Homo sapiens: one gene and its partners. The protein of the gene in region 5 interacts with the protein of the main gene of each other region in a biochemical or structural test. Each region holds a gene or a part of one and is shown on either strand. Other genes may lie near its edges.

Region 1 (3,500 bases), on a different chromosome or scaffold from region 5:
CTCCTGGGCTCAAGTGATCCTCCCACCTTAGCCTCTCGAGTTGCTAGCTAATTTTTAGTGTTTCATAGAGACAGGGTCTTGTTGTGTTGCCTAACCTGGTCTCCAATTCCTGGGCTCAAGCAATCCTCCCACTTCAGCCTCCCAAAGCACTGGGATGACAGGCATGAGCCACTGTGCCCAGCCTGTCTTTACTTTTTCTTATAAATATTTTCAACCTCAAAAAAATTAGAGAAAATAGTATAGTAACCCCCACATACTCATTATCCACATTAACTAGTTATCAGGACTTTGCCATGTTTGCTTCACCTATCATGCCAAACATCGATCACATCATTTTATTCCTAATATTTCTCTATGCATTTCTTAAAAACTGGACATTTTCTAACATAACTACAGAACTGCTAATACACCTAACAAAAGTAACAATAATGCCTTTGTATTATCCATTACCCTGTCCATAATCATATGCCCTCAATTGTCTCAAAACATGTTTTACAGTTGGCTTGTTTGACGGACGTTCCAAAAAAGTTCCACACGTGACATTTGGTTGTTATGTCTCTAAAGGCCCTTTCAACAGCCCTCTCTCTTTGACTTGTCACAGAAATCAGGTTGTTTGCTCTGCACAATTCCCACATTCTGGTTTGTCCTCTTATTGCCAGTTAGCTTGTTCACCTATCCCCTATATTTTCTATAAATGGAAGTTAGCTCTGGGCTTGATTAGATTCAAGCTCATTTTTCTTTTTTTCTCGCTTTGGCATAATGATTAAAACAAGATCATTCTGGAGGCAGGAAGACCAGTTAGCCGGTTGTTACCATAGCTGGTTGGGGACAGAAAGAAGATGGGTGAATGTATTTGGAGGTAGAGGAAACCTGATTTACCTACCAATTGAATGCGTGGGGTGAGGAAGAAGGAAGAGTCAAAGATGATTCTAAGGCTTTGAGCCTGCATAACCAGGAGGGTACCAATGTCATCCTATGAGAAGGATGAGTTTTTAATGAGAGCAGCAGGTATCATGGTTAGATTAAAGGAGGAACTTTCTCACTTTCTCACAGTAAGAGGCCATCTGCTCTGTTTTTTTTTTCCAGATAATACTATCTTTCCCAGAAAAAAATTTGATTCGTGGTATAGCTAAACATTTGATAATGTTTGGAAAACATTTGGAAAGGGACTCCGTATTTTTTGTTAACTGCAAATAGTTAAATTTCCAGCTCCAGGGCCTTGAGAGGGAGGATAGTATATACAATTCTGGATAGAGAGAAGGTAATGCTGATATCTCCCTTGCAGATGAGCCTACTGTCCCATATCATCATGGGTTTCTGAGTCATCAGGCTTGGGTAGGAGAGTGTAGGATGCCAGAACCTGGGATTTCTCTAGACACAGCCAATGAGCATAGCTCAAGATCCATGTCTTTCCTTGATATTGGCTGAAGTCTCTATCCCACACCCACTCTTCCACCCAATATGGAGGCTGTGTGGACCCTCAGTGGACCATGGCAACAGTGTTCTTGCCAAAGTCAAAAATTGCCTAAAAGCCCTGGGATATTCACTGGACTCTGACAAAGCCCCAAGATTATTTCGACACCTCAGTAGGAACTTGCTTAACTCGTTGAATTGGATTAGGTGAGAACTACTCTCAGCTCCATCCCATCATACCCTCCTTCATAAAGGCTTTTCTCTCTCTTCCTTCCCCTAGCTCATCTTTCTTCTTGCTTTTTCTTCTGCTCCCCCCTCCCTGCTCTTTCTCTTCCAGCGTACATTTATTCTCTCAAGTTAATCAAACACTGGCCCCTACAGCCCATTGTGCCTCAGATTGATCACTTAAGTAGCGTTATTGATTGCCCAGAAAACCTTAGGAGGTGGGAGTGTTCTGAAAGCTAGGATCTGACAGCTGATTGGCTGCCTATGTCTCACTCGGCAGCCTCAGCTCCTCTGCCGTCTGGAACATCTTTTGAGAAAGGTGAGGGAATGAACAGCGGAGATCCTTAGCGGGCTTCACTTATCTCATCCTTCCTTCATACTGGAGTTAAGGCATGGGAAGAGAAGTCTATTGACCACTCCAGGATCTAGCCCTGTACTAATGTTATGGTGAGAAGGGGAAAGCAAAGGCCCTGCTCTCTGGAAATCCGTAATTTAACAGAAAAATAATACTCATTCATATGAAGTAACTAAGAATAATACAAGATGGAAAACAATTATGTGCCACATTTTTTTGCTCTAAACAGTAAGCACTGTAGGGGTTCAAAGCACAGAGAGAATGAGAGTGTGGGCTGGAATGAGGGGAGAAGTCTTCCCAGAAGAAGTTGAACCTGCGTTATGTTTTGAGTAACATGTGAGATTGAGATTGTTGACTAGAAAAGGAACAGGCTTCTGAGGGGGAGGCACAGCATAGGGAAAAGGCTGGAGATGGAAATGGTCAGGGTGTTATCAAGAAAGGGTCAGAAAGAAGTCTGACTAGAGGAGAGGGTGTATATGCAGGCACAGTGGGGAAAAAATGATTGGCTGGGTATGGGACTCCCAGATTTGAAGAGTCTCTGATGTCAGAAGAAGTTTGGACTTGGGTAAACCTTGGGGGCTGTCGGACAATTATGCATAGTGATTCAGGATGGTTAGCTATGCAGTTGGAAGCAGAATTGATTGGAATAGGGAGAGACTTGAGACCAGCCTATAAGATACTACAGCAATCTAAGTGAGAGGTGATAAGGGTGGTGGCAGTGGGCATAGAGAGGAGGGTCAAATCCAAAAGGCTCTCAAGGCATCGGTGTGGCTGATAAACCACCAAGTAGATTTTCTTGACTTGTTTTTGTCTCACTCGCTCCTTCCTCTTAGCCTCAATACTTACACTTTCTTTGCCTCATGCCCTCAGGACCTTAAGGTGGCAGAGTTTCTGGAGCTAAGATAACATTGGGCATTATAATCAGTTATCCTTTCCAAGTAAAGTAGATGCGCACAGGGGCCTTCAGTACCATGACCTGAAAGAGTGAGCAATGAGGAATCTGGCTGCAGAATGCAGTTGAGATGATAGCCAAGCTGGGGTGCTGAGTATTACATCCCCCAACAGGGAGGCCGGAGGCAGGCGATGCCTGTGTCTGGTCTGTTTCAAGTCCCCCAAGGCTTCTGAGAGCTGGTAAGAGTGAGGAAACATCTTTCAACTTCCCTGGTAGAATCAGTTTGAAAACTCTTCTGAGCACTTGGGAATCATCTCAGTGAAGGTCACACCTGTGCCAGAGTATGGCAAGAGCTACCACAGCACTTTGATGCCAGCTGGAGCCCTGTTGCAGCTGGTATAAGGAAACTAAGTGAGGAGTCCACAGGTTGATGGGAGAGTCATGGCCAGGGCCTCTGCCTGCTAAATTGCCTCCCCCACCAACTTTCCCCTCCCCACCCAATCCACTGAATATCAGCCCTGGATAGGTGTCTGGGCCAGGTCTGCCAGCCCTGGATTGGAGGGAAATAGAGAACTGCAGATAAAGGGATATTTGTGAGATTTTAGTCTCCTTTTA
Region 2 (3,500 bases), on a different chromosome or scaffold from region 5:
ATCGTTCTCTCCAGGATGCCCTGTGATCTGCTTTTGAGCAAACCCAAAGGAACCTCAAACATCCATTCCTTTCACTTCTGTGCAGTATCAACACTGTTAACCATGGTATGTTTGTTAGAACTCCATGCATTTTCCTTTATACCTTTCCCCTACACTTTCTACGACTCTTTTATGACCTTCTTTTCTCTTATTTTTTTCTTACTTTTGAAAGATATTTATGTCTGTAAACAATTGTTTTTCTTTTATTCTCTCAAATAGCTAATAAATTTTCATAGCTTTAGCAGTAATCTCCACTTCGGTAGCTCTGAGTTAGATAGGTCAGGTTTTACCCTCTTTCTAAAATTAATGGGTTCTTCACCTGCATTTGGTTGTTATGTCCTCTCATTATCCATTTGACATGTCCCATGTCAGATATCACATCTTTCCTTCCAAAGAAGCGTATTTCACACTTACATATGTGAGCATTTACCTAGTACACAAAAACACTATCTCATTTGGCCTCCTCCTGATTCTTGTTTTATTTGATAGCGGCATCACTAACATCTAGTCATTTAGTTTTAATAGGCTAATTTCTAACCTTCACCCAATTAGGTCCAGCTCTCATCATCTCAAGTCTGAATTCTGCAATAGAATCAACTCTGGTCCACCATGGTTCCCTGAAGCTTGTAAAATATGACTTTCAACATGTGATTATGCTGTCCAAAAACCTCTCTGTTTGTATAAGATTAAGATCAAGATAACACATGAACCCTTCAAGATTCTTGAGAATCTAAACGCCTCCAGTTACTTAGTTAGTAAAACTAAAGTCAATGAAATTCAGCTGTTCTGTTTGTTGTTGTTGTTGTTGTTTATTTGTTTTTTTATTTATTTACTGCAATCTAAAGCAAGTCAAGCCTATAATAGGTGTTATAAGAAGAGAGGCAGTTTTTCTTCCTAAACCACTTATGAATAGAAAAGCATTAAATATTGATCCTAAATCTCAATTTTGACTTAATCTATAGAGAAGCATTTAACTTTCCTGGAGCTTGATTGTCCCATTTGCAAAACAGGAATGAAAAAGTCAGCTTCCTAGTCCTGCTGTGAGAATCACATGAGATTCCCTAAAACAGGACTCTAACAATCATGTATAACACATAGAATGTGAGAAAATAGTATTACGAACGGAAACTAAAGTGTAGGGTTACATTTTCCCAAATGCATTTATTATGCCCTATGAAGACTTTATACTGAAACTTCTAGTTCCAACTTCAAGGAGATTTCTTGGAAAAGAACACAATATGGAAAATAAAAGCAAATGACTTAGGTAGATAATGGACATATTTTAGTTTTCTCTAATCGCTTAAAAGGATTCTTAAGTTGAGAAAAAGATGTGTTTGAAGAGAAAAATAAAGTTAATTTATGAAGTTAATGAATTGGACAAACTACCACAATCTGACTTACTTTGACTCTAAGTGTGCGCTATTGTATTACTCTTGATTGGCTCATCTATAATAATGGTGTAAAATGTACACAAGTAGATTAATCTACTTTCGGGAGTTTTACTTCTTCAAGATTAAAACCAGACCAGGAAAACAAAAGGGAAATAGTCTAGCTAAGCTGGAACAGGCTCCACCATGTGTTAAATAAGGAAATATCATTTAAAACTACTGAAAAAAGTCACCAAATATAGAAAAAATAACTGTTCTGGAATAACTATTTTTTTATCCCCAATGATTTTTTAATCCACTTGTGTGTCCTTTTCATATTATTCATTTGTTAATAATATAGTAAAAGGACACCCACAAAACTTTGATATGTTAATTACATTTAAAGTCAAACATTTCATCTTAAGACATTCTTTCCTTAGGAAAAAAAAGCTTTTAGAGAAACAACAAGCCAATGAGCCCACTTTTGCTGAGTATTCCCTCAGCAGTAGATAAATTCAGTGACTTAGAAATCTTGGGTAGATTCTTCACTAGCATTGTAGAGGACAAGTGTTGTTCTTTTCTATCCTTTAATGTAGTCTCCCCTTTCACTGAAAACTGCACTATGCTAGTCATTTGTGTTCTGGGAAGAGGGAATATTTGCAGATATTAGTCAATAACTAATACCCCTCAATCAGTGTGGTTTTGTAAAGCCCATCCTACTTCAAGATCCAGCCCAATATGTAATATTCCCTTGGTCAATCCCAGTACATCTACTGGAACTATTGAGGAAGTGAACTGGATTTGGGAAGGAAACACTGTAGAACTATAACTGGTAAGGAGGTGAGTAAGACAGAGAAAGAGATGAAGAAGAGAGGGGGAGAAAAGAGACAGACAGAAACAGAAACATAGACAGGAGTGAGGGAGAAAGACAGTGAGAACAGAGAAAGAGGCAAATGTTATCACGTAGGCAAACCGTACTTTGGAATGAAGACAACACTGAAGAATGCGGATAGTATTTGAACACTTTAATCAAGCCATACCTGCTATAATCTGCTACTGCATAAGCCAGTAATTCTCTTTTGCAAATATATTTTTTATTTAGTTGCTTATTTGGATTAAGCCACTTTAAGCTGGGATTTTGTCACTTCTAGCAAAAAAAGAAATTAAAATATACAAATACCAATTAGGCAAAATAAGCTCCTTTTTTTCCATCAATAACTGCAGAATTGTTTTTCCCTTTGGCACAGTCACTATTAACAAGGATTAGAAAAGAAGAAATTACAAAAAAAAATTGCCATATATCAAACCAAAGCATAATCTTATCCATCCCTGTGTTTGTGCGGTTGTGTGGGTGTGTGGACTTACATCACCGAACATACAATAAGACATCTGCCTCCAATTTGTGAAATCCAACAGAATATTCTATAGAGTGTGTTATAATTTGCTGATGAAATGTAAAAAATAACTTTCTAAAGAAATTATCTGTTTTTACACATATGAGTAGGCACAAAAGTAGAAAATTTGTATTCTGGGAAGAAGGGATATTTGCAGATATTAGTCAATAACTAATAATCTTTTCTTAGTCTCACTGTTAATCAAGGTTATTATCTGGGTTATTGTAGCTGTTGCATGTGTATGAGGGGCAAAAACAGTAGCTGGAAAAGATGCTGGAATAAAACATATTATGTAATATTATTGACCTATCTTCATTCCTATTTGTTCTATGAGTTAATTTTTCCCCACAAAACTTTTGCCCATTCAAAAACATGAAGTATCTATTTTATCTCAGCCACTCATTATTTTTTAGGTTTATTTATTTTAAAATTGTAAAAACATATTAAGATGAACCTTTTCATCAAGTCGTGGTTCATTGTCTCATTTCTAGATAAAAACAAAAAGGTCTGGAAAAAATCTGACTGAATATCTCAGTTTAGGGTTTCTATTAAATGTCATTGAAATGGGAAACGAAAAGGTTCGGCAGCTATGTGTGGAATCTAGCATGTAGTCTGTTTCGCTACATGCAAAATTTTAACAATGAAATTAGGTAAAGCAAAAAGTAGATTTCACACAAAATTCTCTATTTTCAGTTCTCAC
Region 3 (3,500 bases), on a different chromosome or scaffold from region 5:
TCTCCCAAGGGCTTTCAAATGGGGAGCATTCAAACAATTACAGAAGCCAACATTTATTGAGCACTCACTATGTGCCAAGCCCTGTGTCATGTGGTTTACTTTCTACTTTTCCAACAACCCTAGAGAGTAGGTATCATTATTATCCCCATTTTCCGAGGGGGAAACCTGGCACAAAGAGGTTCAGCATCTTGCCCCAGAACACCCAGCTCATAAAGTGTAAAGCCTGCCTCTTCACCCAAGCCAACCTTGGGTCCAAAATCTGACTCTATGACACATCAGTAAATTGCTATTTGTGGATCATTTTATGAGCAGTACTACGGTCCTGATGACACTATATATAGCAGTAATTTTGAAACATGGCTTATAATCAGGGCACGATCGCCTTTTAATTGCACCATCATGCCCCTGTCCATAAAGAGAGCCTCGAGTCTTGTCTCATAAAGGAGTAAAGATTATCCTTATTGTAAGAAGCATAACTGTGGCCCATTAAACAGACACACAAATGCCTCCATCCACAGTAATGGTGGGGTTGATACCTTAGCCATGAGAATGTAATTATCTTATGGAACTCATCTTCATGACACTGGAGATGGTAACAGAAAAAGTCTATACACACAGCCAGAAGAACCTCTCAGTCTGTTTAGGGGTGAGAGAGTCTGCAAAGTTCCATGACACACTCAGCATGGGGCTGCCTTAGACACACAGTGGTGACTTGCTCTTTAAAGCATCTCCATTGGCCTTCTTGACTCACTGGTCTCACCTCTTCCTTGCCCTACTGGAACTTCCTGGGAGCACCTCCCAGATAAGCCCTGTGCATTCAAATCCTGACCTAGAGTTGCCTTCTAGGGATTCATGTTGGTGGGGAGCACACAGGACTGAAAGTGGACTGAGGCCAATGACTTGGCTAAGTAAGGGATGCTGTGCACAGACCTATCCCTAACTCGACAAGATCTTCATGGTGACTCTAGTAGCCTCAGCTCTCCTGTTTGGATCAGCCACCTGGTACCCCTTGTTACCGTCATTTCCCAAATCAAAGTAACCTCTGAAAATCAGGACACTCAATTAATTTTAAAGTCAAGGACCTCTTCCATGCAGGGAAACCTAAAATTGGAAATGTGACCTTATCTCTGACTCCAAGGAGACTCCAGTGGACTCTTCCCTCCCCTTCTTGACAAGAAACCAAGGACCCACATGTTCTTACTTGTAAACCCATAATACTAAGACCAACTGAAGCAGGCCAGCAATGTTCACTGACTTTAAGAATATTCCTGGATCAATCGGCTAAGCTCTATTTTAGCCCCAGCCATTGACTGTAAATGTTAAACTCTAACCAACTTTAATGTGATCCATCATCAGTCACCTAAATTTTCAGGGACTTCTATATATCTACATTTTCAGAGGTAACTGACCTCAGAAGAGATTTATTCTAGTTCTAAACTTGACTGTAAACATTTAACAAATACCCAAGCAAGTACTAGGCACCATGCACTGTTTTTGCTACTGGGGATACTGTGGGAGAACAAGACAACATTCCTGCCATCTCAGAGCTTACATTCTAGAGAAAGAGGTAAAATAAGAAATTTACTTGTGGTGAAGCGATCTACATACTATGGAGTAAAATAAAGCTGAGAGGGGGAACAGGGAATGACACGTGGCAGTGGAGTTATGGTTTTCAATAATGTGCTCACAAGAGGCCTCACTGGGCAGGTGACATTTCAGAAAGACTTGAAGCTCAAGAGATAGCAAGCCTGTAAGATGATCAGGTGGGCACTAGCAGGCAGGACAGAGAAAGAGAAGTAATATCCTTAGGACAGGTCACGGGCAGCCTTGGAAGTCACTATAAGGACTTCGGCTTTCACTCAGATACAGAGACTACAGAAATGATTAATAATGGATTATTCCATTATGTAATTACTGAGCCATAAAAAGAGAAGATTTCTATTTAATCATAAAAGACACTGCTCAAATTACATTTTCTAATTTTGCTACATGCCTTCGGAAAAGTTGACATCCAGAACACATTAGACCCTCCACAGGACACTTAACTAGAAAGCAGAGTCAATATGATAGGACCAACCTTGACATCTGTTGAAACAACAAAATGAATTCATAAGAAATACTACATCGATGCCGACCTCCATAGGGGAGAAGTCTAGCAATGCACCAGTGTGTACTAGGGATTTTTCAAGGTTACAGATCTCACATATGAGCTGCAAAAAGACAGGCAGGCATGCAGTAACCTACTTTTTTAGGATGTGAATGTCAGCCCTTAACGAATTTGACAGCCTTTATTCTCAGTGTATACAAAATCAGTATATCCTGTTACTTGTATATACAAACTCAAGGAAAGGGCCACTAACACCAGAGAGTGGTGCTTTGCATTAAATAACCCTCGTTTACAAAGCAACATCCTTCATGTAAACCCTTGTGGTAAGGAGATGTCAGAATGTTTTCTCTTATAAACCACTTAATTCCCCTTGGTGGATATCATCAATTCTGCCATCTAAAACCAGCTGGGTAATGAATGCCAAGAAACACGGTGAGCCAACTGTATGCCATTGCCACAGAAGGTCAAGTTAATCTATTTTTAAATAACACAGCCAATGACAAGGGGTGGCCACTGGAAACGATGGACAAGTGCGTTGTACGTCCTTGCTTCATTTTTTGTAAAACCTGTACAGTGTTCCACAGTGTAACCTAAAAATATCCTTCCAAGAGTGGTCTTTTGGCACCAAGAACAAAAACAGGTTGATTTTTGAAAGTTTAAGTTAAAAAAAAAAAGACATAAATACAAAGTACAATTTAAGAGCGAGAGGGCTAAAATTGGATTGTGTTCTGTAGCAAAGATCTGATTTGCTATTAGCCAAAAAAAAAAGTACACAGGGACAATGCTGCAAGAAAACGGAGGGAAAGAATCATTTTTAGGCATGAGGACACAGGTCCCACATCAACAAAAAAAATCCTCATCATCCTGCCTGCTGAACATCTGAAATTTCACGTTTAGAGGCTCACTTGTTAAACTTCAGTTAGAGTCAACAGGCAGAAATACTTGAATAGGATTCATTAATCCTTGTCAGTCATTTATAGCCCAGTATAAATTATTAGACACAGAAAGCCTGCTAATTGGAAGATCTGATTACGAGAAAGTGAAGACCTCTGGATCCTAAACAAGAAGTAAAAGACAAATCGAGAGAAAGGGAGGAAAGATGTTGCAAGTGGCCTAGTTGCACTTACCTTCCGAAACAATGGAATAGTCATTCAGGCATCCAACCAATTTTAGTGAGCACCTATTATTTGCTGGGTCTTTTTTTTGAGATGAGTCTCACTCTGTCACCCAGGCTGGAGTGCAGTGGCGCGATCTCAGCTCACTGCAACCTCAGCCTCCCGGGTTCAAGCAATTCTCTGCCTCAGCCTCCCTAGTGGCTGGGATTACAGGCGCCCACCACCACGCCCGGCTAATTTTTTTGTTTTTTTTTTTTTTTTAGTAGAGACAGGGTTTC
Region 4 (3,500 bases), on a different chromosome or scaffold from region 5:
TTGAAGCCAATGATCATTTACCATTCTGAAAACCCTAAGGCCCTTAAGAATTATGTTAAATCTATTCTGCCTGTGCTCAGTAAATAAACAACAAAGCCTAAATGACAGCACGTTTGTTTACAGTATGGGTTAATGAATATTTTAAGTCCACTGATGAGACCCACTGCTCAGAAAAAAAGATTCATTTCAAAATACTACTACTCACTGACAATGCATCTTGTCACTCAAGAGCTCAGATGGAGGTACACAAGGAGATTAGTGATTTTTTTCAGGCCTGCTAATACAACATCCATTCTGTGGCCCATGGATCAAGGAAAAGTTTCAACCTTCAAGTCTTGTTATTTAAGAAACACATTTCATAAAGCTACAGCTGACATAGACAGTGATTCCCTAACAGATCTGTGAAAAGAAAATTGAAAACTGTCTTGAAATGATTCATCATTCCAGATGCCATTAAAACCATCTGTGGGCCAGGCATGGTGACTCACGCCTGTAATCCCAACACTTTGGGAGGCTGAGGTGGGAGGATCACTTGAGCCTAGGAGTTCAAGACCAGTCCAGGCAATGTATTGAGACTATCACTTAAAAGAAAAAAAAAATTGTGAAGCATGGGAGGAGGTCAAAATATCAACACTAACAGGAGTTTGAAAGAGGTTGAATCCAACCTTTATGAATGACTTTGAAGGGTACAACACTTCAGTGAAGGAAGCAACTGCATGTGTGGTAGAAATAGCAAGAGAACTAGAATTAGAAATAGAGCCTGGGCTGGCTCCCAGCACTTTGGGAGGCTAAGGTGGGAGGATTGCTTGGGCCCAGGAGTTCAAGATCAACCTGGGCAACATAGCAAGGCCTCGTCTCTACAAAAAAAAAAAAAAAATCAGCCACGCATGATGGCATGCACCTGTAGTACCAGCTACTCAGGAGGCTGAGGTGGGGTCACTTGAGCCTGGGAAGTAGAGGCTGCAGTGGGCTGTGATTACGCCACTGCACTCCAACCTGGGCAACAGAATGAGATCTTGTCTCAAAGAAAAAGAAAAAAAAAAAAAAGGAAAGAAAAAAAAAAGAAATGAAGATGGAGCCTGAAGGTGTGACTAAATTGCTGCAATCTCATGATAAAACTTGAGTAGATGAGAAGCTGCCTCTTATGCATTAGTAAAAAAAGTGGTTTCTTGAGACAACCTGCTCCTGGTGAAGATGATGTACATATTGTTCAAATGACAACAAAGAATTTAGAATACCACATAAGCTTAAGCTTAGTTGATAAAGCAGCAGCAGAATTTGGGAGGACTGACACCAATTTTGAAAGAAGTTACTGTAGGTAAAATGCTATCAAACAGCATCACATGCTAAAGAGAAATCTTTCATGAAAGAAAGTCAATTGATGTGGCAAACTTCATTGTCTTATTTTAAGAAACTGTCACAGCCACCCCAATCTTCGGCAACTACCACCCTGATTGGTCAGCAGCAGCTATCAACACTAAGGCAAGACCCTCCACCAGCTAAAAGATGACAACTAGCTGAAGGCTCAGATGACTGGTTAGTATTTTTTAGCAATAAAGTATTTTTAAATTAAGGCATATATCTTTTTTTAGACATAAGGCTATCACACACAATAAACTACTATATGTGTAAACAACTTTTATGTGCACTAGGAAATAAAATTCACGTGACTCACTTTATTGGGATATTGGCTTTACTGCAGTAGTCTGGAACCAAACCTGCAGTATCTGGGAGGTATGTCTGTACCTTAACAGTTTTTGTTGTTTTAGTGCACTTAATTGTCCATGGAGTATTTAAGTCTGAAATTTTCCATAAGAATATCTTTGCAAATTGAGAAAGAACTAGCTCAGGAAAGACAATGTTCTGTGGAAGCTGAATCTATAAGTAGGAGAAATCTCTCACACACACACTGTGTTAGAAAGATATCTAAATGGCACACTTTACAACATGTGTCTGTACTTGATGTCTGGCTCACTAGGATTATGCCTGAGTTGATAGTTTCACCTAAGGACGACAGATGGTTCAAAATAAAGGAACCATTCATTTTGTCCCAGAAACACAAGGAGTTCTTTACTCATTATTTACTCATCAATTACACGATGCAAACAAATGATTTCAACATACTAATTCTCATCCCTTTGTATATTTTTCACAACGCTTTGCACCCAGTAGGTATTCAAGGAAAAATAAGCCAAACAAATAATTTTATCCCCTTCTATTTTACAGCTTATTAATTTGGCTTCTAGGGCACCACCACTCTCTCGGTTTTTCTCCTACTGCACTGTTTGCTTCCACTCATTCTCCTTTGCTGATTTCTACTCTTCTCCCCGACCTTATACTGATCTCATGTCCCATGGTACTCACTGTCCTTGGTCCTCTTCTATTCTCTACGTACACTCACTACTTGGTAATTTTACCCAGTCTCATGACTTTCAATATCTATAAACTGATGACTATAAAATTGTTATCTCCAGCTCAGGCTTCTTAGTAATACAAATTTGTATATGCAACCTCTTACTCATTTCTAACAGACATTTCAAACTTGACATGTTCAAAACTGAATTTCTGATCTTGCCCCTAAAACCTACTCCTCCTGCAGCTTTTCCCATCTCGCTGATGGCAGCTCAAACCTCTCTGACAATAACTCCAACACTCCAGTTATTTAGGCCAAAAACCTTGAAGTCATGCTTGATTCTTCTCTTTTCCTCAAGGTCCACATCTGATCTATTAGCAAATCCTGTTGGCTAACCCTACAAAATATTTCTAAAACTTAACCACTTCTCACCACTTCCATTACTATCACTATCACTTTAGTCAGAGTGACCATCATCTCTAACCTGATTTTATGCAATAACAGCCGTTAACCTCCTGCTTTTGCCCTTAAACACCTACAGTCTATTCTCAACACAGCAGCCAGGAGACTACCCAGTAAGGTAGTCAGGTGTAGTGGCACATGCCTGTAGTTCCAGCTACTTGGGAGGTTGAAGCAGGAGAATCTGTTGAGCCCAGAAATTAGTGACCAGACTGGGCAATATAGTGAGACCCTCTTTAAAAACAAAAAGGTAGGCCAGGCGTGGTGGCTCACGCCTGTAATCCCAGCACTTTGGGAGGCCAAGGCGGGCAGATCACGAGGACAAGAGATTGAGGCCATCCTGGCTAACACGGTGAAACCCCATCTCTACTAAAAACACAAAAAATTAGCCGGGCGTGTTGGCACACACCTGTAGTCCCAGCTACTCAGGAGGCTGAGGCAGGAGAATCGCTTGATCTCAGGTGGCAGAGATTGCAGTGAGCCCAGACTGCACCACTGCACTCCAGCCTGGGTGACAGAGCAAGACTCTGTCTCAAAAAAAAAAAAAAAAAAAAAGGTTAAGTAGGTCAATATCACTCCTCTGCTTCAAAATCTTTCAGTGCTCCCCCTCACTGAAAAGTCAAATAGGATGTGCCCTATGCTATGCATCATTATCTCCACTCCTCCTTCATCTCTTACTACTCTCACA
Region 5 (3,500 bases):
AGAAGAGCTTCCAAGACGTGTTATGCAGGAGGCAGAGATCGTTAACATATAGTGACTGATGGAGGAAGGTTTAAAAAAAAATCAAGTTGGTTCAGATAAACACCAATAATTTGGATGATTTTCTGAACCATCTGGACCTCTTCAATCTGCAACATTTGGCTGGAGACTCTTCAAGATTTCTAGTACTTCCTGCTTCTGATTAGCATAGAAACACCATGACAACAATCTCCTTCAGAGTGTGCTGGTGGTTCCAATCCCATATGGGATCCCAAAGCACAAAGAACATCACACAGGATTGAACAATTTAGGCCATTATATCAGAAAGTTAAAGGATATATATAGGGCCAAGGTTTCGGAAAGAAGCAAAATGGCTCATTTCTTCATATAATGAGCACATGCCCAGGAGAAACTAACAAAAAGTGGTTTTGTACAGTTTCTACTACCACTTTAAACTACTCAAGTTTATAGGATTAAAAAAAAATAAAAAGTTTCACCTGGGGTTTTAAACTTTAGCCAGAGGTACAGAAAATGGCTTTAAGGGGTAATTGCCCATCAATAATATTTACTGAGGTCTCCTTGAGGACCTGGTGTTAAGAGTTCAGGAGGCAATGTCTTGCCATTGCAAGATGCAGTGGATATAAAGTGCATGAAAAGGATAGGAGAAATCTACCACACAACTGCAGCAATATACAGTATAGGGGACTGGGCAAAATAACCATGACTTCTGTTGGACTGGGTACATCTAGGAAGTCTTCTCAAATGGTGGCCCTTAAGAGCATTTCCAAAGAAAGAATAGGCAAGATATGAGAAGAATTCTTTTCTGGTTGTAAGTCAAACTCAAAGCTCTTTATACATGATTCAAATTCAGAATGGCATCAATGATGAAAGAGATGAGAATAATGTCCAGAATTTTTAAAAAATGTGCTGGAGTAGTTATGTCTTTTAATAGCATGATGAAATAAAAAGGGCAAGAGGCAAGGTATACAGGAATAATCCAGAGGTCGATGGCAAGAAGCCTACATGTGGAGATATGTTCAGAGCTCTTTGTCATTCTGCTAAAGGTTTTAAAGGGACTTTACTGTGGCAACTTGAGAGGCTTTAGCATTTTCCCTATAAACAGTATCTCACTGGAAACATGCATGTAGTACCAAGCTCAATAGTATAAATGGAAATACATGCAGGACAGAACCGTAAGAGAAACAGATATAGAATGCATTCAGTTGCATGGAACTAAAGTGTAGAAGAAAACTGAAAATACATTTTTAAAAAATCAGCAAAAATCTAGGTTTGAATCTTTAAAAACACAATTTAACTTTCTAAACTGTTAATCACATTTAAATGATTTAATAATTTTGATTTCATACCTCAGAGTACCTCAGTTCATTTTTTAAAGAATCAGCCTTGATTGCAAACCCTTATGACCCCATGAACTGCCTGTCAACAGCTAACTATTTATGTAAATCAGTCTTACCAGGAAGACTCCTTTGAATGCAGAAGATTCTTATAAAGTGCAGCTTCTGCATGATCTTCCTGCTTTGAACAAATAAATGAATCACGTTTTCTTCTCAAAAAATTCAAAAGATCACCATAGCAACAATATTCTGTAATGACCAGGGTGGGCCCTAAAAGCACATAAGAAAAGGTTAGAAAGAAGGTGAGATATATAGATTAATTCTGCCTCCCATAAAAATACCCAAGGGTGGTCATGGCCATTAATATTCAGCTTCAGTGGATCAGACTACTTAGTCCCAATACAATCCCATATATTAACACTGCTTATCAAAAAAGCAGCCTTATGTGGAGTAACATAAAACAAGCAAGCCTCTTTTAACCTGAATTTCTAAGTGACATTAGTATTTGGAGCCAAGCATGACTGCTGGTTTTACAGAGAGAAGTTACTGCTTTCAAAGATTCTACTATTATCAAGCTTCCTACGTGAATCCTCTGGTTCACTTCTGTTTACAGCAGGGCTTCACACACTCTCTGTAACGTTATTATGGAAATAATGAAGGCACAAACTGTGGCATAGTGGGAAAATCAGCCACAAGGAGCAGCCAGCTGGGACAAGACTGGAAAGTGAGTGAAAACCTAAAATGACCTGTGTTCTGAGCGCTACTAGTTGAAAAATTTTTTGGTGCTATGAATGTTTAAACTGTAGTTTAGAAGTAACAGGCAACTAATTAACTTGGGTAAGAAATTTTCTCATGAACAATTCATGATGTGGTGAAGCAACATTTATGGGGATTATTGGAAGACATGATATAAGGCTGTCAACTTTATCGTGGATCTCCAGAAACAGCTCATTTTACACATCTTTGTTTCTTTCAACTGAAATACTTTCTGCAAACATCACAGACATCCTTGATGGGAACTTCAACTAAGGCTTCAAATTGGAAACTTATTTTTAGAGAAGTGAAATGTTTGCCTCATTTGGTGTATATTTGAGAACCAGTAGGCTTAGGCGCCTGTTTTAAATTGTAGTATGCAAATTAATATTAACCCTTTCAGTGGCTACATATGATCAAGAAATGTATAAAGCTTACAAGATAACAGAAGCCTTCTGGTCGGGATGAGATATTCAAGAGGCTGATGTCGTTGATGTTACAAATACGACAATAACTAGGGTATGTCCTGGGCTGTTCTACCCCATAATGATAAAATTAAAATCTGCATTCTTAAGAACAATGAGGAAAACAAAATCTAGCAAGAGAGAACAACAGTCTGGGTAAAAAAATCTTCCAAGCAGTTTATAATCTAGCATTGCCAAAATCATATTAAAATGTCATGTTTTGATAACCTGACAGACAATAAAAGGCAGCTTGGACACGGCTTTACCTCCAATGGTGCAGGCTCCAAGTAGATTCACAATATTCATGTGATTACCAAGGTAACTCAGGACTTTGAGTTCAGACATGAGGGCTTCCCGTTCTGTCAAATGGGCACTCGCTAAAATTGGAAACATGCATTTTAGCAAAAAGCACAACTGGCAAACTGATGTCAAGCGCATGCAGTACCATACAGGAACTTACGCTTGAGCATCTTTACAGCGACAGTCATGGCCGCATCTGACTTAATTAAGCCATAAGCAGTTGCCTCAACAACCTTCCCGAAAGCTCCAGCACCCAGGGTTTTCCCTGTAGGAAGGAAGACAACAAGGTAAGTGGTGATGGTGCTGGTGGTGGAATTGAAGGACCATTTGTGCAGTTTCAAAATCAATAAAGGAATTAAAAACAATGTTGTCCAGAGACATTTTCCTACGATGTTCTCTATGGCAAACCTATCAAAAGGGGCGCAATTTCACAGAAAACTCATTGTTTCAGGTGGAACAAAACAAAGGAAGCCACTGGAGTTCCTTAAAGTCACTGTTATGTGTACCCAAAAAGGTGACATGGAAAGCCCCTGTTTCATACTGACCAAAACTCAGCCTGTTTCTGGGAAACTCCCATTTGTGATCATAAGGAAGTTGTGTTGGGTCTATGTAAACATAATTGTTTCCATTT
Region 6 (3,500 bases), on a different chromosome or scaffold from region 5:
TTGCTGAATGCATGGCCAGTGTGACCAGGATGTTCCTCCTCCATGATGGCATCTGTAGACCCCAGTAGCTCTGCACCAAGTGCTGCGGTACTGTAGCTAGACTGAGATTCCACAGCGTTTTTTGGGGTCCTGTAGGGGTTTCCTGAAAGACTTAGCTGGAACATAGCTGTGTGCGTATGTGCATGTGTGAGAGAGAGGGAGAAGGAAGGGGATTAATTCGTGCAAATAGTCATTGTGAGCAAAAGAAAAATCACAAAGCCAGCCTCCTCAGCTAAGGGGGTGGGGGTGGGAGGTGAAGGTGAGTGTATAGGACACATGGATGGTGACTTTTTGTTTTTAATGAAATGGAGTAAATTCTAATTTCACATAAGATAATCACATCTGGAAAGAAATAGTCCTCTTTGGCCTCCTTTAATTTCTTTTTCTTATATCTTATACTTAAATAAATTCTACCTCTTGCTTAATACACGTTAAAGGTAAGATTAGAGAATCAACTTTGAACATGGATATTCATTCAGAAAGGTTTAATTGGGCCTCTGTGAGGCACTGAGCTGCGCTCTGAGGAAGCTGGCTTGCCAGTGTGCATGTGCAGGATAATTAGAGACGTGCAAGGGCTCTGCGGCCAACATAAAGGTGAGAGGCTACAAGTGATTAGATGGACAATTTTATGTGATTTTAAAGTTGACCTTGAAGGAATAAAACCTAGGTAGGTAGCAGAAAGGGAAGTGGCGTTTGGAAGTTTCTGCTTGAATTGATGGACAGGGGCCGGTGTTGAGTCAGGGAGAGATGGGGTCTGAGCCTGGCCCGGAACGGCTGGTCTGGTGTTGCTGTGATTGCATGGAGAGGCAAGCGGGGGGGTGGGGCTAGGGAGGCAGGACCACAAGTCGCTCCTGCCAGTGAGCAAGTTGCTTATTAAACACCTTGGGTGCATGCATGAGAACTGCTGAGGGGCTGTGGGACCCAGGGGCCCCGTGGACACAGTCCCTGCCCCCCAGGGAGCTTGGTCGGTTTGAGGAGAAGTGAAAGGACTTATGGCTCACAGTGCTCAGTGCTGTGTGTCTGTGCTCTGGATGCTCTGAGAATATGTGTGGACTGACTTGCTGAGCCTTCGGGGCAGCATTCTGTGGGCAGGTACTATTTTGTACCCATTGTACAAGCTAGGAAGCTGAGGCACAGCAAGATGATGTAATCGTCTGTGGTCATACAGCCTCCAATACAGAGTCATCCCAGGGAGGGTGTCAGGTGAAATGCTAGGCCCAAGGCCAGACCATGGGGCAGTACTTCTCAGCCAGGGGTGATCTTCATCCCCCAAAATGTATGGAGACTGTTTGGGTTGTCACGGAGGAGAAGGTGCTGCCAGCATCCAGTGGGTAGAGGCCAGGGATACTGTCAAACATCCTACAATGCACAGGACAGCCCCACAGCACAGAGTTATCCAGCCCCAAATGTAGGTAGTGCTGAGGTTGAGAAACTGCCTGAGCGGCATAGGAGTTCAGATGCAAGAGAGAGAAATCGATGAGAGAGGGAAGCTGGTTAGGGATGGTTTGTGGGGAGTTGGTCTGAGTCTAGAAGGGTTGGGGAGGAGGAGCGGGGATAGGGGGTTAAGTAAAGTATTGAGTAATATTTGTGTTCCCTCCAAATACATATTGAAACCCTAATCCCAATGTGATGTTATTTGGAGGTGGAGCCTTTAGGAAGTGATTAGCAGGAGGGTGGAGCCCTCATGGTTGGGATTAGTGCCCTTAAAAAAGGGACCCCAGCAAGCTCTCTTTTGGTATGTGAAGATGCTAGAAGTTGGCCATCTGCAACTCAGAAGGGGCTCTTGCCAGAACCTGACAGTGCTGGTACGCTGAGCTCAGACTTCCAGCCTCCAGAACTGTGAGGGATAAATGCCTGTTGTTTATAAGCCACCTAGTCTGTGGTACTTTGTCATGGCAGACTAAGAACAGACTCAGACAAGGGGAGGACTTAAGTAAAGGTGGGGATGGGGCCTGGGCAGGAACAAGCCGCGCTTCCTGAGGCCCTTAAGACTCCAGCTCATGGCCTGGAGTCACCTCCTTTCCTCCTCAGGACAGCCCACAAGGGGGACAGCAGATGCTAGGTGCACAGATGGGCCATCAGAGACTCTAAAGGCACAGGAGACTTGCCCAGGGCCCCCAGCTGGCCAGTGAGTCCCCACCCTCCTGCGAATCGCTCCTTCCTTATCTGCGTGGGGACCAGAGGAGGGAAGCAGTGAGGCTATGAGGGCAGCCTGACTCCCTCTGCAGCTGCCACAGCATCAAGGTGGAAGCAAAGCTTGCTGGAGTACAGACGGAGCTCTGTCTGCACAGTTTCCTAAGGGGAAATGGATTGTTTGAGGAGCTGAACTTTGATGTCTATAAATGTAATCTCTATAGAACCAGAAAATTAAAAGGCCGAGTGGTGATAAAAGAGATGTAACTGATGAAGATGAAGAGTAAGAAAAGAAAAGCAGTGCTTTCGTGGCCACCCATAGTGAAGAAGTACTTAGCAGGGCAGACCCCGATTAGAGCACAGCTGAACTTCCTCCCTGCCACAGTGCGCCGCTTGTTGAATGGGGAAATGTGATGGTCCGTCCGTGGACCACCCTGGCTGGTGGGAGGTGTAACCACTGATAACAGCCAGAATCACCAGTACCAAATACAGACTGACATCAGTGGGTCGTATCACCTTTTTAAAATTCTCTAGAAAACACACCCCTTTTTGCCTGCACCTGGACAGATGTGCACACTGCCCTACCCCCACCCCTCGGGCCACTGCAGAGCAGCATCTGGACCACTTCAAGGCTGTGTTCAAATTTGTTTCAGTGTATGTCCATGCTCTTTGCAGTGACTTTGACAAGCAACTCTCATCCTGATGAATCAGTGCTTCTCAAACTGATTGGAATCACCTGGGGATCTTGTTAGAATGCAGGTCTGATTCAGCAGGTATAGGGTGGAATTCTGCATTTTTGGCAGGCTTTGCGGCGGGGATGGCATCACCAGTCTGCAGGCTACACTTTCAGGAACAGGGATCCAAAGTGTGCATTCTGCATCTGGCCACTTCAATACTGGTTGACTATTGTCCCCCCAGGTTACAGGAAATCAATTTCTAGAGTAGAATTATAGGTATTGACTTGCCTTACTCTTCCTACCTTATTTTTTGGGTCATAATTAATTCCCAAGGCATAATTATTGGTGGGTGGAACATTTTACAGGCTGCCTCTTTCTGTGCCTTTGCCTCTGTGGTCCTGCCCTCTGGGTTTTTGCTCTGTTTTAGAATAGCGCACAGCTTCCCTTGCTTCCCCAGGAGCATCATGGTTCTGCTCTCCCGTTGCTATAGAGACCATTCTGGCTTCTCTTTTCTCTCTTCGCCCCTCTTCTCTGGGCTTCCCCTCCCACCAGATTTCTTAATTTGCTGTACCGTTCCACTGTTGTCATGGGGACCAAATGACCCTTTATTTAATTGGCACCTCCAATAAAATGGCAGCTCAGAAATCCAAG
Region 7 (3,500 bases), on a different chromosome or scaffold from region 5:
CACTGCTCTGCCGGGACAGTGTGGGTCTCCGATCCTCCGGGGTAGAATAGCCACCATAGGCCACATGCCGGTCCAAGCAGGGGCTGCCGGGAACCACAGATCCAGACCCTCCGAGGTGACGGCCCAGGCTGGGGCTTCCAGGGCTGGCTATTGCATTGCTATGAAGACCGGAGGCCAGGTTGCCTTGGTGAGCCCCAGGGTGCCGGCCCAGGCTGGGACTCCCCGGGGTGGTGGCCACTTTGTTGTGGAGGCCAGAAACCTGGTAGACCCCTGCTGGGTGCCGACACAGGCTGGGGCTCCCCGGGGTGGTCGCTGCACTGCTCTGGGGGCTGGAGACAGTGCTACCATGGAAGCCAGTGCCTGGTGGACCCATCATCTGGTGATGGCTCAAACTGGGACTGCTGGGGGCAGCCATGCTGGGATTGATGGCCCGCCAGCCGAAGCCAGGACTAGGGGGAGTGTTGGTGCCCACTGTTCTGTGGCGCGCCTGAGGGCTCCCAGGCACCGTGTGGACGCCAGCCACACTGAACTGAGCTCGAGCCTGGCTTTCCGGAGAGGAGCTGAAATGCTGAAGTGAGTAGTCGGGGCTGCTGTAGCTACTGCCCACAGTCGGGAGAGGAGAAGAGCTCTGGTAGTTTCTCTGGGCAGACGGGCTGGGCTGTCCCAGGCTGCCTGAGCGGAAGCCAGACTCCAACAGAGGCTGGGTGGGCGTCCGGGGACCCTGGTCACTGCTCTCTCCCGACGGGAAACTCCCCACTGAAGTGCTGCAGAGAGATGGCAGGTTGCGATGTCAGTGGACAGAACTGAATGAAGGGTGGATTTACAGCAGGCTGTCTGCCCTCCCTCCAACCATGAACAACAGTAAGAATGGTCCCACTGGCAGTGCGGAAGGACATCAGGGTTTTATACGTTACCTTACAGAACCATCAGAAGAAGAAACTGAGGCTCAGGGAGGTTAAGCAGTAGGCTTAGTACCACACTGCTTATAAAAGACCAGGGTTTCAACTTAGCTGTGTCTGATTCCAAAGCCCACGTCTTCCCCACTGCACCATGCTCACTCCTGAGCCATGTCAAAGTGAAGAGCCCTCTCCTATCGAAACTGGAGGTGGCTGTCATGTTATAGCCTCCAGCATCACAGAAATTCCTAATGGAGTTTCCTGGCTCCTGTTCCTACTGGGAGTAGCCCTGTCTTGACTCAGTTTCCTCAAGTGTGATATCATCATCCTTAAACATTGACAGAGAGTGCTAGAATTGGGCTTTCACTCCTAGATGGCTCCAAAAAAGCAAAGACAAGGAATCACAGGGGAAGGTTTCACATCAGGGGATTTGAGGTCATTGTAAGGTCTGCTCTCCAGCCACTGGGGATGTGGCCACCAATGGAGAAAGCTGTCTTGCATGGTAATGAGGCTCCTGTCATTAGGAGCATTTAAGCAGAGGCTGACAGACCTATTGGCCTGAATGCTGTAGAGGGAATTTCCTGCATTGGGAGGTTAGATGAGATGAGCTCAGAGGTCACTACCAATTCTGACTCTGAAACAACTCAGTTCAGAGGAGACTATACCTGGGGTAATTGCCACAGTCAAAGGTTCCCTTGTAAAGTTAAGTCTAGGTCTGCATGGAGTGACAGATGAAAGCACAGCAGTACAATGTGATGGCCAGTGAGTTTTTTTGCTTATTAAAGTTTTTCCATGTGGAAAATGACAGGACTGGATTAGGTGACCCTGACTCCTTCTAGACCCAAATTTCTATCCAACTATGGTGAGAGAAACAAAGGTTGACAGGGGCCTTACATAAACTAGTATGTAGGGAGGGAGCAGGCAGGCTGTGCACCAGGAACCCCCCATGGGGAGAGGTCCTTACTTAGCCAATGGGCCAAAACCTGGAGCTGCAGGCTGGAAGGATCTTGTTGTGGGCTGGCCCTCCCTGGGCCAGGCTGGATAAGCTCAGGTTCACGGGGTGATATGAGGTTTTGGTTGGGGGTGTGCTCTTGGGCCAGGCAAGAGCCAAGGGCAAGGAGAAGGTCAGGGGCCAGGCTAGGGCAAAGTCTACCTTGCATCCCAGAAGGGGCCAAAGCAGAAGGCCACCTCCTGGTATAATCCAGAATAAACTGGATTCTGAGGAGTGGGAGACAGAGCCAGGCTGAGCAGGGTGAGAGAAGGAGACACTAAAATGGAGTTCTGGAAGGCTAATCCCAGGGGAGAAAGGCTAGCTTCCTGGAAAGGGCCAACACTTCAGCAGGAGGGATTTGAGTGAGAAACAATGAACAACTTCCTAATGCCAGGGCTCACTGAACATCAACAATGGGTGGCTGGGACAACTTAGGAAAATCCCCTTTCCTTTAAAATAGGAAATGCAACCCTCGGCCAGAGTCAGGCCTCCTGAGCAACGCAGGCTGCTGCCTGTTAAGAGGCTGGGGAAGGGGAATGCTTGGCTTAGAATCCAGAAGACAGTTGCCTCTGCTCATCTGCTCCCCTAGTCATCCCATGGTGCCCCCACTTGCAGGGGAGGCTCAGCATTGAGCCAATGTAGACTGTGCAGCAAACTGGACCCACTGGGCCTGGCAGGGGAATTTGCAGGCTCTGTGACATCCCAGGCTAGGGAGGGCAGTGGGCACGGCGAAGAAGGGATGGTCAGGGCAGAGTCTCCCCTCCTGGGGGCGACACCTCCTAGGTCCTCCTCCTTTGCCTGGCACTCGATGCCTTGCCTGAGCTGATTGCAACCCTCCTTTCCTATGCCGTCATCCCATCTCTTTGTCCCCTCCACCTTCACCCCCACTACCCCAGTCAAGCAGCTCCTTGCTGCACCCCTCCACTAAGCCTGTCAGCAGGGACTGTCACCCACCTCTGGGCTTTCATCTCTGTGTGATGCACTCAGAAATATGGATGCCAGCCATCCATCCACCCAGGCATCCCCTAATGGCAGGCCACATGCCCTCAGCCTCACACTCCCAACATGGCCACAGCCCAGTCCTCTGTCCCTGCTGGGCTGTCCTTCTGGAATGCCCTGTCTCTCTTTCTTCATCTTTCAACATCCTGCTACTTCCTCTACACCCTTCACAAATGCCTCCAGCCCTCAGAAATCCTCGCTGCATCCCTAGCCAGAAATAATGGCCCCTTGTTCTGAGCTCCAAGCCCTTCACTCATGTGTGGGCTTTGGGCCCATCTGACTCTCATCCTGTGCAGGGAGGGCGCCATGATGCAGGTCTGGGGCAGAGGATAGAGATGCGGGCTCTGGAATCACACGCTTCCACCTGAATCTGATTTCTGCCACTGCTTAGCTGTGGCACCTTTATGCCTCAGGTTCCTCTTCTGAAAAGTGGGAACAATAATAGTGCTCACCTCCTAGGATTGCTGCGAGGATTAAATAACTGCATAAAGCACTTAGCAAAGTGCCAGGTACCTAGGATGAGCCCACTACATAAGTCATTACTGTTGGTAGATTTTCAACTTGGGGAAGGACTTTGCCACATTCACCGTGGTACCCTTCACTCCTTCCAGCAC

Evidence for each region.
Region 1: the proteins of KIT (region 5) and FRMPD3 interact in a test that uses a peptide from one of them, tested with the Homo sapiens proteins (one large-scale study listed by IntAct).
Region 2: the proteins of KIT (region 5) and SNTG1 interact in a test that uses a peptide from one of them, tested with the Homo sapiens proteins (one large-scale study listed by IntAct).
Region 3: the proteins of KIT (region 5) and MAGI1 interact in a test that uses a peptide from one of them, tested with the Homo sapiens proteins (one large-scale study listed by IntAct).
Region 4: the proteins of KIT (region 5) and RAPGEF6 interact in a test that uses a peptide from one of them, tested with the Homo sapiens proteins (one large-scale study listed by IntAct).
Region 6: the proteins of KIT (region 5) and APBA1 interact in a test that uses a peptide from one of them, tested with the Homo sapiens proteins (one large-scale study listed by IntAct).
Region 7: the proteins of KIT (region 5) and TNS1 form a complex in vitro, tested with the Homo sapiens proteins (one large-scale study listed by BioGRID and IntAct).

Annotation. Positions count from the first base shown.
Region 1 is NC_000023.11:107,456,152-107,459,651, forward strand, and holds part of FRMPD3 (FERM and PDZ domain-containing protein 3), read left to right. Parts: intron 1-3,500.
Region 2 is NC_000008.11:49,917,907-49,921,406, reverse strand, and holds part of SNTG1 (gamma-1-syntrophin), read right to left. Parts: intron 1-3,500. UniProt on the Homo sapiens protein: Adapter protein that binds to and probably organizes the subcellular localization of a variety of proteins. May link various receptors to the actin cytoskeleton and the dystrophin glycoprotein complex.
Region 3 is NC_000003.12:66,028,919-66,032,418, forward strand, and holds part of MAGI1 (membrane-associated guanylate kinase, WW and PDZ domain-containing protein 1), read right to left. Parts: intron 1-3,500. UniProt on the Homo sapiens protein: Plays a role in coupling actin fibers to cell junctions in endothelial cells, via its interaction with AMOTL2 and CDH5. May regulate acid-induced ASIC3 currents by modulating its expression at the cell surface.
Region 4 is NC_000005.10:131,628,730-131,632,229, forward strand, and holds part of RAPGEF6 (rap guanine nucleotide exchange factor 6), read right to left. Parts: intron 1-3,500. UniProt on the Homo sapiens protein: Guanine nucleotide exchange factor (GEF) for Rap1A, Rap2A and M-Ras GTPases. Does not interact with cAMP.
Region 5 is NC_000004.12:54,727,457-54,730,956, reverse strand, and holds part of KIT (mast/stem cell growth factor receptor Kit isoform 1 precursor), read right to left. Parts: coding exon 3,415-3,500; intron 3,135-3,414; coding exon 3,030-3,134; intron 2,947-3,029; coding exon 2,836-2,946; intron 1,623-2,835; coding exon 1,472-1,622; intron 1-1,471. UniProt on the Homo sapiens protein: Tyrosine-protein kinase that acts as a cell-surface receptor for the cytokine KITLG/SCF and plays an essential role in the regulation of cell survival and proliferation, hematopoiesis, stem cell maintenance, gametogenesis, mast cell development, migration and function, and in melanogenesis.
Region 6 is NC_000009.12:69,445,372-69,448,871, reverse strand, and holds part of APBA1 (amyloid-beta A4 precursor protein-binding family A member 1), read left to right. Parts: intron 1-3,500. UniProt on the Homo sapiens protein: Putative function in synaptic vesicle exocytosis by binding to Munc18-1, an essential component of the synaptic vesicle exocytotic machinery. May modulate processing of the amyloid-beta precursor protein (APP) and hence formation of APP-beta.
Region 7 is NC_000002.12:217,817,996-217,821,495, forward strand, and holds part of TNS1 (tensin-1), read right to left. Parts: intron 765-3,500; coding exon 1-764.